Linked DNA regions of Homo sapiens: region 1 is linked to region 2. Evidence: fine-mapped expression QTL. Tissue or cell type: whole blood. Region 2 holds a variant in brackets; the other region holds the start of a gene. All regions are shown on one strand. Distances are between the middles of the regions.

What was found. PIP is the estimated chance that this variant, and not a neighbour inherited with it, causes the effect.
Region 1: it holds the start of JAKMIP3, and the variant in region 2 is fine-mapped to the expression of JAKMIP3 in whole blood (TOPMed, PIP above 0.99). The same link has a PIP of 0.9 or more in T cells.

The regions. Positions count from the first base shown.
Region 1 is chr10:132,062,270-132,069,669 of GRCh38, reverse strand. It overlaps JAKMIP3 (Janus kinase and microtubule interacting protein 3), which reads right to left and starts at 3,724. Exons shown (of 24, transcript NM_001323087.2): 1 at 3,609-3,724. RefSeq lists enhancers at 1,425-1,925, 4,200-4,947.
Region 2 is chr10:132,187,825-132,194,524 of GRCh38, reverse strand. It overlaps DPYSL4 (dihydropyrimidinase like 4), which reads right to left. Exons shown (of 14, transcript NM_006426.3): 2 at 3,690-3,778; 3 at 1,683-1,867. Among named protein-coding and RNA genes, the nearest start is that of DPYSL4, 4.2 kb to the right of the region's middle. RefSeq lists an enhancer at 6,357-6,700. The variant A/C (reference allele first, on the strand shown) is at 4,101.

The DNA.
Region 1 (7,400 bases), 130 kb after region 2:
CCTGCCAATTGCGCTCTTTAATGAAACTCTGAAATGGACATGGCCGCTGGACACAACAGGAGGTTGACCACAGAGACCTGCACGCAGGGGGGGATGCCAGACCTACATGTGAGACAGCTTCAAACAGCAGAGCTTCAGCCCAAGTCCTAACTCCTCCCCATCGGAGCTCATCACCAAAACACCCAGGAGCCCCCTGAGAAGGTTGTCTGGGGGGTCCCTGGTGAAGATGGGATGGATTCCAGGCCCCTTCCTGCTCAGACCCACCCCACCACCATCAGGATAGTACTGGATCTCAGCTTAACACGAAACAGGTCAGTGGGGACCTGGGAAAACGTGTCCTTGGGGGTGTAACACAGACCCAGTGTCCCTTCAGAAGAAAAACCGAGGCCTCCAGACCCCTCCCCTGGCCTCCCACCCCTGGCTGGGTGCTCAGAGTCCTCCTCAGGCAGGAAGACCTGGGGTCCTTCAAAGTCAAAGTAGTCCTGGGTCAACCACCCACCAGGCAGGTGGATGTCTGGGAAGAGCAGCAGCTGGGGAAAGTTTTAATAAGCTCCGTGCCCAGGAAGAATGGCGCCTGGGTAGGATTCCTCCTTACCCAATTAAACACATTGGACCAGTCCAGCTAAAGGCGCTCCCCTCGAACTCAGCCGCAGGCCGAGCACTAAGGCCAGTAAGGTCTGCAAATCCTCCTGATCCAGTCACATCCTTCATCCTGAGCTGGCCGGAGTCACTTTCCCTAGGTTTGAATTCCGGCTTCACTTTGAGGCCCGGTTTTTCTGGAGACCAATTCTCTGTGCCAAGGAGAGGGTTTCCCATGATGCCCCTGCCAGCTGTGCTTGCTTGGAAACTGGCAACCACAGGACATTCCTGATGTCATGTCCTGGGGTCAAAAACCCAAGGCAATCAAGAACTCAGCTCCTGAGAGCCTTCCAGAGGGACCCCAAAGGAAAGTAAGCATGGCCCTTGCCTGCAGCACAGGTTTGATAAATATAAGACGTCTGCAAAGAAAGCAGGCCCAGGCAGCTCCTGGGGCTAAGGTGCAGGACAGGAGACACCTCCAGTCTCCGGCTCCCAAAGCACGTCTACCTCACATCGCTCAAAGCCCAGCTTGGGGTGCCAGACCAACAGGGCTATATTGAGATAAGAAACACCTGCCCAAGAGGTTCATGGATAAGAAACACTTGCCCAAGAGATTCATGGAAGAAGCCTAGGAGGCCAACATAGGCTCTTTCAAAAAGAGTCATCTCAGTGGCTAGTGTCCTGAACTTATTCAATCCCCGTACTAAAGAGGGCCGTTTCAGGGTCCAAATGGAAAATTAACACCACCATCCAGCCACATCCTAGCTTGCCTGTCTGGAAACTCAGGAGTCAAGGAAAAATAAAAAGATATGGCATTGGTCCTGAATGGAATTCAGTTTACAGAAGCCCACAGTCCACACGGAAGCCACAGTGCACACGGAAGCCCACAGTCCACATGGAAGCCCACAGTCCAGACCACGCAGAAACCCACAGTCCACACAGAAACCCACAGTCCAGTCCACACGGAAGCCCACAGTCCAGACCACACAGAAACCCACAGTCCACACAGAAACCCACAGTCCACACGGAAGCCCACAGTCCACACGGAAGCCCACAGTCCACACGGAAGCCCATAGTCCAGTCCACACAGAAGCCCACAGTCCACACGGAAGCTCACAGTCCAGACCACACAGAAACCCAGAGTCCACACGGAAGCCCACAGTCCACACAGAAGCCCAGAGTCCACACAGAAGCCCACAGTCCAGTCCACACGGAAGCCCACAGTCCACACGTAAGCCCACAGTCCACACAGAAGCCCACAGTCCAGTCCACACGGAAGCCCACAGTCCACACGGAAGCCCACAGTCCACACGGAAGCCCAGAGTCCACACGGAAGCCCACAGTCCAGTCCACATGGAAGCCCAGAGTCCACACGGAAGCCCACAGTCCACACGGAAGCCCACAGTCCACATGGAAGCCCACAGTCCAGTCCACACGGAAGCCCAGAGTCCACACGGAAGCCCACAGTACACACGGAAGCCCACAGTCCACACGGAAGTCCACAGTCAAGATCAACCTTCCAAGAACATGTATAGGACACTTACTTCTCTTGGAGGAGCTCGATCCAAAATACGGGGGCAGAGGCACAGCTCTGACTGACAGCTCCCTTGCTGTGGGACCACCACCTGGTCGTTTGGATATTGTTAGTTAGGACCTAAAGTAGTAAGGCCTTCCCAGGGCTGTCGGGAGAGAAGCAGGAGCTCCGTGCATGTTCTCTGCCACAGCGTGCCCTTAGGTTTCACAGGGGTGCCCTCAACTCACAGGAGAGGCAGGGAAACCTCGGGAATAGCAGGAATGCCAATGCCCTCCCCCCACCCTCAGCCTTGGAGAAGGAATGTGAATGTGCCAGGCGTCTTGTCTTCTCCAAGCACATATTGATCATATTGATCTACTCTGTGGGACTCTTAGGGAACCTCATCCAAACGCCAGCCTTTTGCCGGTAATGCTGTGAATGTAAACTGAGGGTCCTTCCTCGGCCCGGCTCACTTTCCTCTTCTGCTGCTCTTCTCGGGAACTGAGGTGGCGTTTTACCACGGACCTGCTCAAAGGCCCGATCCACTGAGAGGACTCTCAAGTCTACTACTCCAGGCTTGGCTTGGAATGAGAAAACCGTTTTGTGACTGGTTCTCCCACACTGTGAACAACAAAATCAACGGCAGCAGCAAGTATTTACATCCCTAGGGTGCCTGCATGGTTTCCCGGCCAGTCTCACTGACATCTCAATAAGCATCAGTACAACAACGTACTGCCAAGTTACCTGTGACACCCTTTCCACCGCAGCCCTGCCAGTCCCAATCAGCAGTGGATTTTCTTTGAACAACTGTAGAAACTGAGGCATGGTGCAATAACCTCAAAGAGTGAATTAGTAAGTTAATAAGCTGTTGTTTCCCAAAAACCTGGAGTTCCTTGCATAAGAAGTTATATCAATGAGTGATGTGTGATTCTTGATTAAGTTTTAAAGAGAAGACACCATCCAATCAATGCGCAGGTAGGTGGTGAGGCCTCAAGCCATAAAGATGACCTATTCTTCAAAAGGAAAACAAGCAGCAAAAAAGTCCAGCCGGTTACCCCACGGAGCCAGGAAGCACCCGGACGCCGCAGGCCTCCCGGGCTGTGCAGACAGCTCTCTGGTGCTATGTCCGTGGGATTCTCACCACAGCCGGCAATACACAGACTCAGCCTGGCTTCCCCAACCCACCCCACCACGGCTGCCGTGCCAACAAGCATCCGCTTTACATATGGGATGGAACACACACCCATGCTTTAAAGGAGAAACCTACTACTGGGAACGCAGGCCCAAGCCTCCTCCAAATGTGTGCATGAGCATGAACGTGAAAACGGATAAATGAAGCATCTTCCTCTGTGATCGTCCCTGCACCCCTCAGAGGACAGACCCCAAACTGTCAACTTTCCAGCCACATACGTGTGCGCACTAAATACAGAAGAGCACCAGGTGGAAAGAGCCTGTGCAGAGACAGCCAAACCGAAACCAACAAAGCCTCTGCAGCAGTCAGAAAATAAACACTCACATTCCAAAGCTCGCTGTCTGCTCCTCTCTCCCATCGCTCTGCTCGACTGTGAGAATCTTTCCCGGCTCGTCCAAGACTCAGTCCGGCTTTTGCGCAAATCAGCTCCGAGCTTCTATGACTCAGCAAAGAGCTCGGCTTTTATTTTTCAGATGGAATTTACCACGCTGTGACTACATCCAGGGGGAGGAACCATTTCCCCGAGCTGTTTCCAAGCAGAGCCCTTGAGCCAGGATCGCCCAAGCTCTCCCTGTGCACCTTAAGGCCAAGCACAGAGGCATCCTCTGAGCCCCCAGCCCAGCTCCCTGCAGGGCGCGAACAGACGCTTCTCGGTGGGGAAGGGGCCCGCAGCTCTGCACGGCCGGGCGGCCGAAGGCACAGCCACGCAGGTGAGATCCTGAAGGCAGCTTGGCTCTATTCAGATGCAGAGGCGGCCTGGGCTCCGGGTTGGCCCGGCGGCAGTCTCACGTGAAAACCAGCGAGCGGCAGAGGCCACGGCTGGGCCATCCCTGCCCTCACCGCCCCCTCGGCTTCCTGGCTGCTCCAGGACCGCGTTCTGGCCGGCTTTCCCTCCTGCTTGGAGAACCCCCTTCAAGATTGCAGAGTGAGCGGGTCAATAATAGGAACGAACTTCCACTCTGAGGGTATCTATTTTAAATGTCAGGTGATAGAAGGGATTTGCACACACTCAACACTGAGGACTGAAAATGCAGACGGGAACCAGACACAGGAGACCAGCAGCATTCCTGTGTGAAGGGCAAGCACGAGAGCTCACCTGGCCCGCCAATCCCACACGCAGTCCATAATCACCGTCCGGAAAAGCCGTGTGACAGCCGCTCTGTAGAAAACGCAGGGTCTGACAGGGTTTCCAAGCAGGAGGCCGCTTAGAGTCCATCTGGGTCCGATTCCATCAAGGCAGCCTTGAGGGCTGCCGGTGCGGGTGGCCTGAAGCTCCTGCCCTGCCCTGTCTCCGGCCACCAGGGCCTGCGCTGAGACTGCATCGGAGCCTGGACCCCAGAGCAGGCCTGCACGCCCAGGTTCTGGGGGTCAGCCTGGGAGGACCCTACATCCCCCCTGCTCCCAGCCCGCTCTGCCTCAGTTCCCTCGCCTGCACCCTGCCTGCCCCCCACAACCTGCCTCTTCTAGTCAAGGCCAAATGTCACTTCACCCCAAAGCTGAGACCGGCAGGCATCACCCCGAGAGGAGCCCACAGAGTGAACGCCGATGATAACATGTCAGAGGATGGCACAGGGCAGGCCAGGACTTCGGGTTACTTCTGCTGTCTGTCTAGATCTGGCCACCCTCATAAGTTAGAGCAAGCAAAAAATTGTCCTGATTAAAACCATGGCCACACGTCTGGCCAAACGTCCAGGGTGATGCAACAACCCTCCAAGGGTCACATGTCCTGACTCGTGTGACGGAGCCGCCCGCTGTCCCTGGTTACCAACCATCGCTGCCTCTATGTCACAGGGGAGGAGGCTGGAGCGCCAAGAGGCCATGCGGCTGCCCCACAATCACATCCCTGTCAGGTCCCGGAGCTGGATTCAGACCCGGAACGGTGGGTCGGAGATCCAGACCCCTCCCGTGTTGCCCTGAAGCAAAGAGGGTTCCCATGCCGGCGGCTCGGGGTCCACGCCCGACCCCGAGGGTGGCTCCTCCTCAGTCGGAGGCAGGCCACGGGGACAACCTTCCTGACGAGGGCAGTGCCCCCTCAGCCCAGCTGTCCTCCTGCTGGAATTGATCCTGGGGAAACAACACAAGGATGGTGTGTGCACAGATTTGACTTTAGTCCAAATACTTTATAGCACCTACCCCGTGCCAGGCGCTGTTGTAAGCCTTTAAATATAACTCACTCAGGGATGCTTACGGCAGTGTTGTCCATAATATAACAGGGAATAATTGGAAACATCCTAGACGTCCAACAGAGGAGTGATTTAACAAGCGATGGGAAACGCACATACGTCCAAATACAATGGGGCCATTTAAAAATGTCCCCAGTCCAAGCTTAACAGAAAGACGTAAACAACCTATTGTTTAAGTTTTTTAAAGTCAGCCATAAAAAAGCTGGTATCGTATGCTCACATTTCTGTTTAAAAAAGTGTGTATAGTATGATCACATTATTTGTTTTTAAAAACGCGTGCCTGTGTGTGTTGCACTCAAGAAAAACAAAGCCTGAAAGCGTAGATACCAAGCTCTAAAGTGGCCATAGCTCCAGGTGATAGGATCTCAGGTGACTTGATATTTTGTTTTGTATCTTTCTGAATTGTATGTATTTTTTTTGTAGAATTGGAAACAATATTTTTAGAATCAGAAAAAACATCTACTTTCATTTCCAAACAGATGCACATGCGTGTATGTGCTTTTGATTCCTGCAGTAAACGTGCCCCTTGCAGACGGTCCGTTCTCTCCCGGAGCCCAGAGGGAGACACTGTCCCTTCCAAATCCCCACGCTGGCTGAGGCGGAGAGCAGGTGGGTGCTGGGCCGGGCTGACACCCGGCGTTCCAGCTTAGGGAGCAGCCTGCTCTTTAAATAGCATCCATTTTTCTAGTTGTAAAAGTGAAATGTGCTCATTGTAGAGAATTTGGAAAACACAGGAATAGATGAATAAGAAAACCATCCTTGCTAGTCCTCAAGAAGCTGAGCTTTGAGCCTCCCAGCCACATTGCCAGCTCCACCCTAATTCTTCCAGATCCCAGAAACCGAGCCCCAGCACCTGGGATGGAGCCAGCACCCCCAGGACGTGTTCTGAGGAAAAGAGGCTTAAACAGCAGGCCTCACTTGTGTCACAGGGTCTGGGAAAACCACGACCTCCAGTGGGTCTCTATGTCTCACGTGGCTGCCTCACCAGGCACCACGAGGCCCAAGTCTGATCCCACAGCCCGTCCCTGGCTTCCCTTTCCCACCCACGGGCAGTTGTCACCTGTCCTTTCTGGGGGAGCTTGGCCACTCCCATGATCACACCCAAATCCAGGGCTCTGCTGCTCCATCGCTGATTCCCAGACCCACCCGTCCTGCTGGCCCGGTGTCTCCATACAATTCCTCGGGGGCCTCTCAGACCCGGCGGGTCCAAAAATAACCTGCCCTGCCCCAAACTTCACTCTTCCTTCTATTATATTGCAGGTCCTGACACAGCCATTCACCAGTTATTATCCAAGCAAAAATATGGCTGCCTTCCTTTTCTCCTCCCTTCCCAGACAGGCCTGCGCCTTCCAGGCCCTGCACACAGCTGTTGGACCCACCACCCCAGCTCCCGTCATGCAAAGGCACCTCCTCCTGGAATCCTGCCAGGACTGCCCCCAGGGGCTCCCATCCTCGGTCCCTCTGTCTCATGACTGAGACCTGTTTTTTTATTCCCATGCATGGCTTCTGTATTTTTACTACATAACTATGAATTCGTCATCATTGCTTTTTGTGTTTTGGAGAAATAGCATAATTGGCATCATACTCTACATATCCTTTTGCAATTTTCTTTTTTCACTCAACGTCATGTCCTCGAGGGCTATCCGCACTGGTGCGTGTAGATCTTCGTCCATCTTCGCTGTATCCCCGCATATGAAATAACCATGCGCTGTGTTGGTTTCCCACCTCCTCCTGGCTGACGGGGAGTTAGGCGGGTTCTGTTTTCGCATCATTGTAAATGGTGCTGCCACGAGCACCCCTGTCTGCATCTCAGGCCCATCTGCTCAGGAGCTTTCAGAGCAGGCGCTTGAATGGGAGGTGGCAGGGCTGAGGGACAGCCATCTTTGACTGTTTCAGCACTGCAAGCTGCTACCCAAAGCAGCGACCAGGATGA
Region 2 (6,700 bases):
CCCTGCCTCCAGCTCCTGTCAGGCTGGGTGAGGCACCCCGAGGGCCAGGCTGGGCCAGTGCGCTGTCCAAGGTGCTGGGCCCCACCTCTGGGTGCCTTCCTAGAACAGTGGGAGCTGGGCTGGTTTCCCGAGTGCCCCACAAGACTTGAAAGGGGCCATCCTGCCCCCTGCACACAGCCATCATGCTGCTGCCCCACCAACCACACACCCAAGGCCCGAACACTGCTCACTGGCCTCTCCTGGTGCAGCCAGACACAGCTCCAAGCCAGGTGGTCGGACAGGAGGGCGCACCCGCCAGGGATGCCTTCCTCCAGCACAGCCCTCCCTCGGGCCCCTACTCATCCCAACAAGATGAAGTGGGCACCCAGCCTCCCTGCAGCCACCCACAGTGCCAGCCTGGGCCTGCAGGCCGAGGAAGACAGAGGCAGGATAGAGGCCAGCCTCGTGTCTGTGGTGTTTCTCTGTCTTCGCGGGGACCCACAGCTGGCCGGGTGCCTTGGCACTGGCACGAGGCAGGTGGTCTCGACTGTGCAGACGTCCTGACCGGCTTGGGCCGCCCCCTGAAGGGCGCGAGCAGTGGCCAGTCTCCTCAGACTGCAAGATGGGCTGCTGCTGGTGTTTTCTCCCTTTGTGGCTGAGTAAACCAAACCAAGCTGTGATTTGGTAATGGCTAAATGTCCCGCGAGGTGTTTCAGGGTCCTCAGAGCTGCCCTCCCCGGTGTGCCAGGGACACAAAGCAACTGACGTGCATTAACTCACACATGCCTCAGAAGCTCATGAGGCCAGTGTTCTGTTTTACAGATCAACAAAGTGTGACTTATAAAAGCCAGCTGAGTTTATCTGGAGTCACACAGCTAGAAAACCATACAACCAGGTTCAGCTAGGCTCCTCAGACCCGTTCTCAACCACAGCAGCGATGTCTGTGCCAGACGGACGCCGCAGAGTGAATGGCACCCAAGGCCACACAGTGCAGTCAAGGTCTAGGCTCTGAGGCCTCGTCCTGCCTCCTGAGCTCACCACGTGCTCGTGGTGGGCAGGCGGACTCCACTCACCCACCTGTTAAACTAGGCTTAGCTGAGCCCAGCTGGGCTGAGCTCAGAGGGTTTTAGGAGGAGAGCATGTGAGCCGATGGGTGTCAGGATAGAGCCCGTGCCGGGCACGCAGCCAGCACTACAGAAATAGCAACTCGGGTTATTTTTTGATGGGATAATAATGAGCATTGCTTTTATCTTTTTCTAAAAATACAGTCTCCATCCTTAACTCTTCTTGACATGAGCAAGAACCTTCCAGATATGAAGCTTCCGAGGCATGTGGCTCAAGGTCAAACATGTATCTGGCATTTCAGACAGCATGACCCCTCCCCTCGCCCAAGGCATTTGAGTTTTCCAACCCCCAACTCCGAGCTGGCTACTAGTGCCCAGGGAAGAACAAGTGGACACACGTCAGTCACTGATTTCCAGTCCTGGAAATCCCAGGAGCATTCCAGCACTGGCCACACAGAAACACCCAGAGTGAGACACAGGGATTAGAAAAGCACTCCAGGTTCTCAGACAGATGCAATAAAGGCAGACAGCTGAGAAAGGCACCTTTAGGCGACACTCCTCCTCCCACACACACCTGGCCAGAGAGAGGGGCAGCAGACGCTGGCTGCCCCCTGTAGAGGAGGAGACCCAGACACTCACAGATCATGGTGGTTCCTCCTGCTAGCGCTGCCTTGGTGCCCTGACAGAAGTCGTCAGCCGGTGTCATGCCCAGGACAGGCATCTGCAGCCTTGTGTGGACGTCAACGCCACCAGGAAGGACCATCAGGCCGTGGGCGTCAATGGTCTTGATGCCCCCAGGGACGATGAGGTTTTCTCCGATTTGTCTGAAAGCAGCAGAGATTTCACTGGTTACAGGGAGCCCAGGTCAGAGCCCAGATGGGCTCCCAGCAATGCAGCAGAGCTAAAGGGTTTGCATGAGCTCCAGACCCCGAGGAAAAGGCCAGCACGGCCGGCCACTCACTGGACTAGCTCCTCGGGAGTGCCAGGGAGCAAAGCATCACTCAGCGCAGCTCAGGACGGTCACTGCAGGGTCCAGCCTCACGCAGACGCCACGCCCTGTGGTTTTCCACTCAGGTCCCTGGTTGGTACTTTTTTGACTAGAGGACGGAGCAGCTTGACAAACGGAAGCAGGTGCGCTAATAGATGTGGGCACCAGTATTTAGGAAGCACCTGCTATGAGCCAGGCACCATACTAAGTGCTGCGATGAACAAAGAAACGTGGAAGCTGGTGTCCTGCTTTCGCCCACAGCCACCCAACATACCTCTGCCCTCACCAAAGGCCGGGGCTCTGACAGTGGCCACCAGCTTACTGCTGCCAAGGATGGGTTTAGAAAAGAAGAAACCTCTCCCATGGATTTCACCCAAAAGTCAATGCCTGGATACCACGTGACCAGTGTGTACACAAGAGCTGGGAACTATTTTCACCTGCCTGGATACCACGTGACCAGCGTGTACACACGAGCTGGGAACATACTTTCACCTGCCTGGATACCACGTGACCAGCGTGTACACACGAGCTGGGAACATACTTTCACCTGCCTGGATACCATGTGACCAGCGTGTACACACGAGCTGGGAACTATGTTCATCTGCCTGGATACCACATGACCAGCGTGTACACACGAGCTGGGAACATACTTTCAACTGCCTGGATACCACGTGACCAGTGTGTACACACGAGCTGGGAACTATTTGCACCTGCCTGGATACCACGTGACCAGTGTGTACACAAGAGGTGGGAACATACTTTCACCTGCCTGGATACCACGTGACCAGCGTGTACACACGAGCTGGGAACATACTTTCACCTGCCTGGATACCACGTGACCAGCGTGTACACACGAGCTGGGAACATACTTTCACCTGCCTGGATACCACGTGACCAGCGTGTACACACGAGCTGGGAACATACTTTAACCTGCCTGGATACCATGTGACCAGCGTGTACACACGAGCTGGGAACTATGTTCATCTGCCTGGATACCACATGACCAGCGTGTACACACGAGCTGGGAACATACTTTCATCTGCCTGGATACCACATGACCAGCGTGTACACACGAGCTGGGAACTATTTGCACCTGCCTGGATACCACGTGACCAGTGTGTACACAAGAGGTGGGAACATACTTTCAACTGCCTGGATACCACGTGGCCAGTGTGTACACAAGAGGTGGGAACATACTTTCAACTGCCTGGATACCACGTGGCCAGCGTGTACACACGAGCTGGGAACTATTTGCACCTGCCTGGATACCACGTGACCAGTGTGTACACAAGAGCTGGGAACATACTTTCAACTGCCTGGATACCACGTGACCAGTGTGTACACAAGAGGTGGGAACATACTTTCAACTGCCTGGATACCACGTGGCCAGCGTGTACACACGAGCTGGGAACTATTTGCACCTGCCTGGATACCATGTGACCAGCGTGTACACACGAGCTGGGAACATACTTTCAACTGCCTGGATACCACGTGGCCAGCGTGTACACACGAGCTGGGAACATACTTTCACCTGCCTGGATACCACGTGACCAGCGTGTACACACGAGCTGGGAACATACTTTCAACTGCCTGGATACCACGTGACCAGCGTGTACACACGAGCTGGGAACGTATTTTCATTTTCGGCGGAAACTTACTTTATCAAGCCATCTTCCACGTGCACATCAGCGTAAAAGGACTGGTCGTCATTCACGATCCTCCCACCTCTGATCAGAAGGCGGTCACTCTATCGGGAACAACAAAGGGTAATTTTTCTCCAAACTGAGTTACTCAGTAACACTCTTGGTGCAACTCCTTCCTCTGAAATTATGACTGAAACATTCAGGCAAAATTTCTAGACGTAAAAACGAGCACAAAAGCCTGCAGCGGCTTACTATTCCCCAAGAAGTGGCACCAGGCGCTCAAAAACAGTTGCCCCTGGAAGTGCCACGCACGCCCCACAGCTGCTGCTCAGACCTCGCTGAGGGCAAAGCCCGTGTTGGTGAAAGTGTGGTAGTGCCACAGGTCATATTTATATCTTCTGATTTACCACTGGATTGAGGAGCCCC[A/C]GCCTGAGGTGGGAGGCGAACGCTGCCTCATGGCCTCCTGTGCAGCCTCAGAGATCCTGCTCTCCTCCACCCTGTCTTCCACCCACGCAGAGGAGGCTGGGAGCGGACGGAGCTGGACTTTGGTTCCACCCAAACACTACAGACCAGTGATGGTGCCAGGAGGCGGAGGCAGACAGCGCCCCCACAGGCATGGTCCCCACCCCAGGAGGCTGCCTCCCACTGAGGGGAGACCAACGGCAGCAAAAACACACGTGCACAGATCATCACAGTCGGTGACGAATGCGCAGAGCACAGTGAGGGCGCCATGGCAGGGCCATGAGAGAGGGGCTGGGAGAAGGACCTCTGGGGCCAGGGTGGCTGATACAGGGGCAAGGCAGACATGGCGAGCGTTCCAGCCAGGAAGCAGCCTGGCCTTGGGGCAGGAAAGGGCTTGAGCTGCCATCAGCAGACCTGGGAGGAGGCCGAGGGATGGAACCTTCTGGTGGGGTGGTGGTGCCAGAGGCAAGTCGGTGCCCAGAGCTTGGCAGGGGCAGGATATGTAGGCCTGGGGACTCCATGGCTGCCCCCTGACTGGGGGCCTTAAGCAGGTTTCAATCCTGGTTTGATGTTTTAAAGAGATCACCTTTGGCTGCTGTGTTAGAAAGTAGCTTGTGACAGGTAACAGTGGGAGCCGGATCATTGCTGGGGTGATTTCTGAGTGAGATGAGGGGCTCTGGGACAGGACTATGGGAAGGGACGGGAGGAGAGTGGATTCCAGAGAGGCTGGGAGTCAGGAGGGCAGGACTTGCTGACCAAGAGGCCATGGGGGTGATGGGGAAGAGATGGGGTGACCTCGGTTCCAGTGCAGCTCGGACGCACTCCCAGTGGGACACAGAGCGTCAGGCTGGTGAGGCCCGCTCTTTGTAGGTCAGCCCTGGCAGCACAGAGCTGTGGCGTTAGACAGGGATTGACTCCAGTGCTTGGCAGTCATAAATCCACTTCTAAGAATCCTACCAGATGGCCGGGAAGCAGAAGATTAGGCAGAAAGTAGGGTGTCACTGATGGGACTCTGCATGACCGTCAGAGGTGAAGATCTGACCTCATTGGAGAATGGGGGAGAGAAACACAAAAAAGGAGTGAAAGGAGGTGGAGAAGGACGCGCCCACGGGCTGGACTCGGCAACGCTTTTCCCTCCACCGTCTGGCGTGCGCCTCAGCACGCCCTGCAACTGACCCGGCAGGACTGACCGTCTGCATTTAACAGGGAGGTCCGGCCGCCTGCTCTGGGTTTCCAGGGCCCACCCATAGGTGGCCAGGGCCCTAGCCTGGGGCTAGAGCCTTCACGCACCGTCAGTCTGAAGCCAAGAGCATTAAACTGAAGTGCACAATTGGTAAAACTCTCAGAATGAGAAGGAGTTCATTATCTAGGAACTCCATTACAGGATTCACTGCTGACATCTAACTGTGGGGCTGTATTTTCAGGATCCCAGTGACTTGTCAACCTCTACCCCATAGTCTACAAACGGTTGGCAGACTATGCCACAGGCCAGACCCAACCCTCTACCTCTCTTCATACAGCCCTAGGCTAAGAATCGTTCTTGTATATTCACTGAAAACAATAACAAGAGTATGTCATGACTCAAAAATTCTATGAAGTTCACACTGCAGCATCCACAGATGAAGTTTTGTTGGAACACAGTGGTGCCCATCGACTTCCTAAATGTCCAGGACTGCTTTCCTGGCAGGGCCAAGCAGCTGAGACAGGAACAGCGTGGTCCGCAAAGCTGACAACATTTACTCTCGGGCTGGTTGTGGAAGAAGTTTTAGACCCTTGGTCTACAGAGCTGTCTGTTCCCAGCCGCTGCACCTCTCCTCCTCCTGCCCAGTCCCAGCTGAGCGCCAGGCTCAGCCCTGACCCGGCACCACCATGCATTTGCAGAGCCTCTGTGGCCGCATCAGGCCCTGGCTGCCTTCCCGGTGCTGTCCCTCTTCTTCACTTTCCACCCCTCCCAGGGGACCCACGCATTTTCAAGGAAGCCCTAGAAAACGCAACCGGGCAGAAGGAGGCTTGAGGAGACGTGTGGTCTGGGCTCTCTGCTCATAGGCGCCCAAGTGTTCAGGCACCCGCACTGAGACTGGGTTTGGAACCCAGAGGAGACGCAGCTGGGGTGTGGGGCTGTGCTCTTCTTACTGCACTCATCCGGATGGAGGTGAAAGTTCCCGGGAAGCAGCTGCCCCTCCGCACTGACATGGTTGCCTGACCTCCCCTGGGAAGGGGTCCTCCTGCCACCCCCAAACTCGACCCCCACATGCCAGCTGACTGGCAAGACCTCCTGCATCAAGACCAGACCCAGCCGGGCAGAACCCTCTGGAGGCAGCAGCCCCTCCCATCTGGAGAGGGGAGGGCTCCTTCCTCGCTCAGAGTCTGGGGGAGTGGAGCCCACAGCCCACGGCTCGAGCTAATGCCAGAGGTCAGACCCCACGGCCCTCCCGCCGAGGCCAAGTCCAGAGTCGGGTCTGGGACCCCATGGACTCCCCCGCCCAGGTCCTGCCGGGTCCCGAAGCCTCCTTCCTCCCACCCCCATCTCCCCCCGCCCGAGCGGGGAGGCTTTGTTTCTGGCA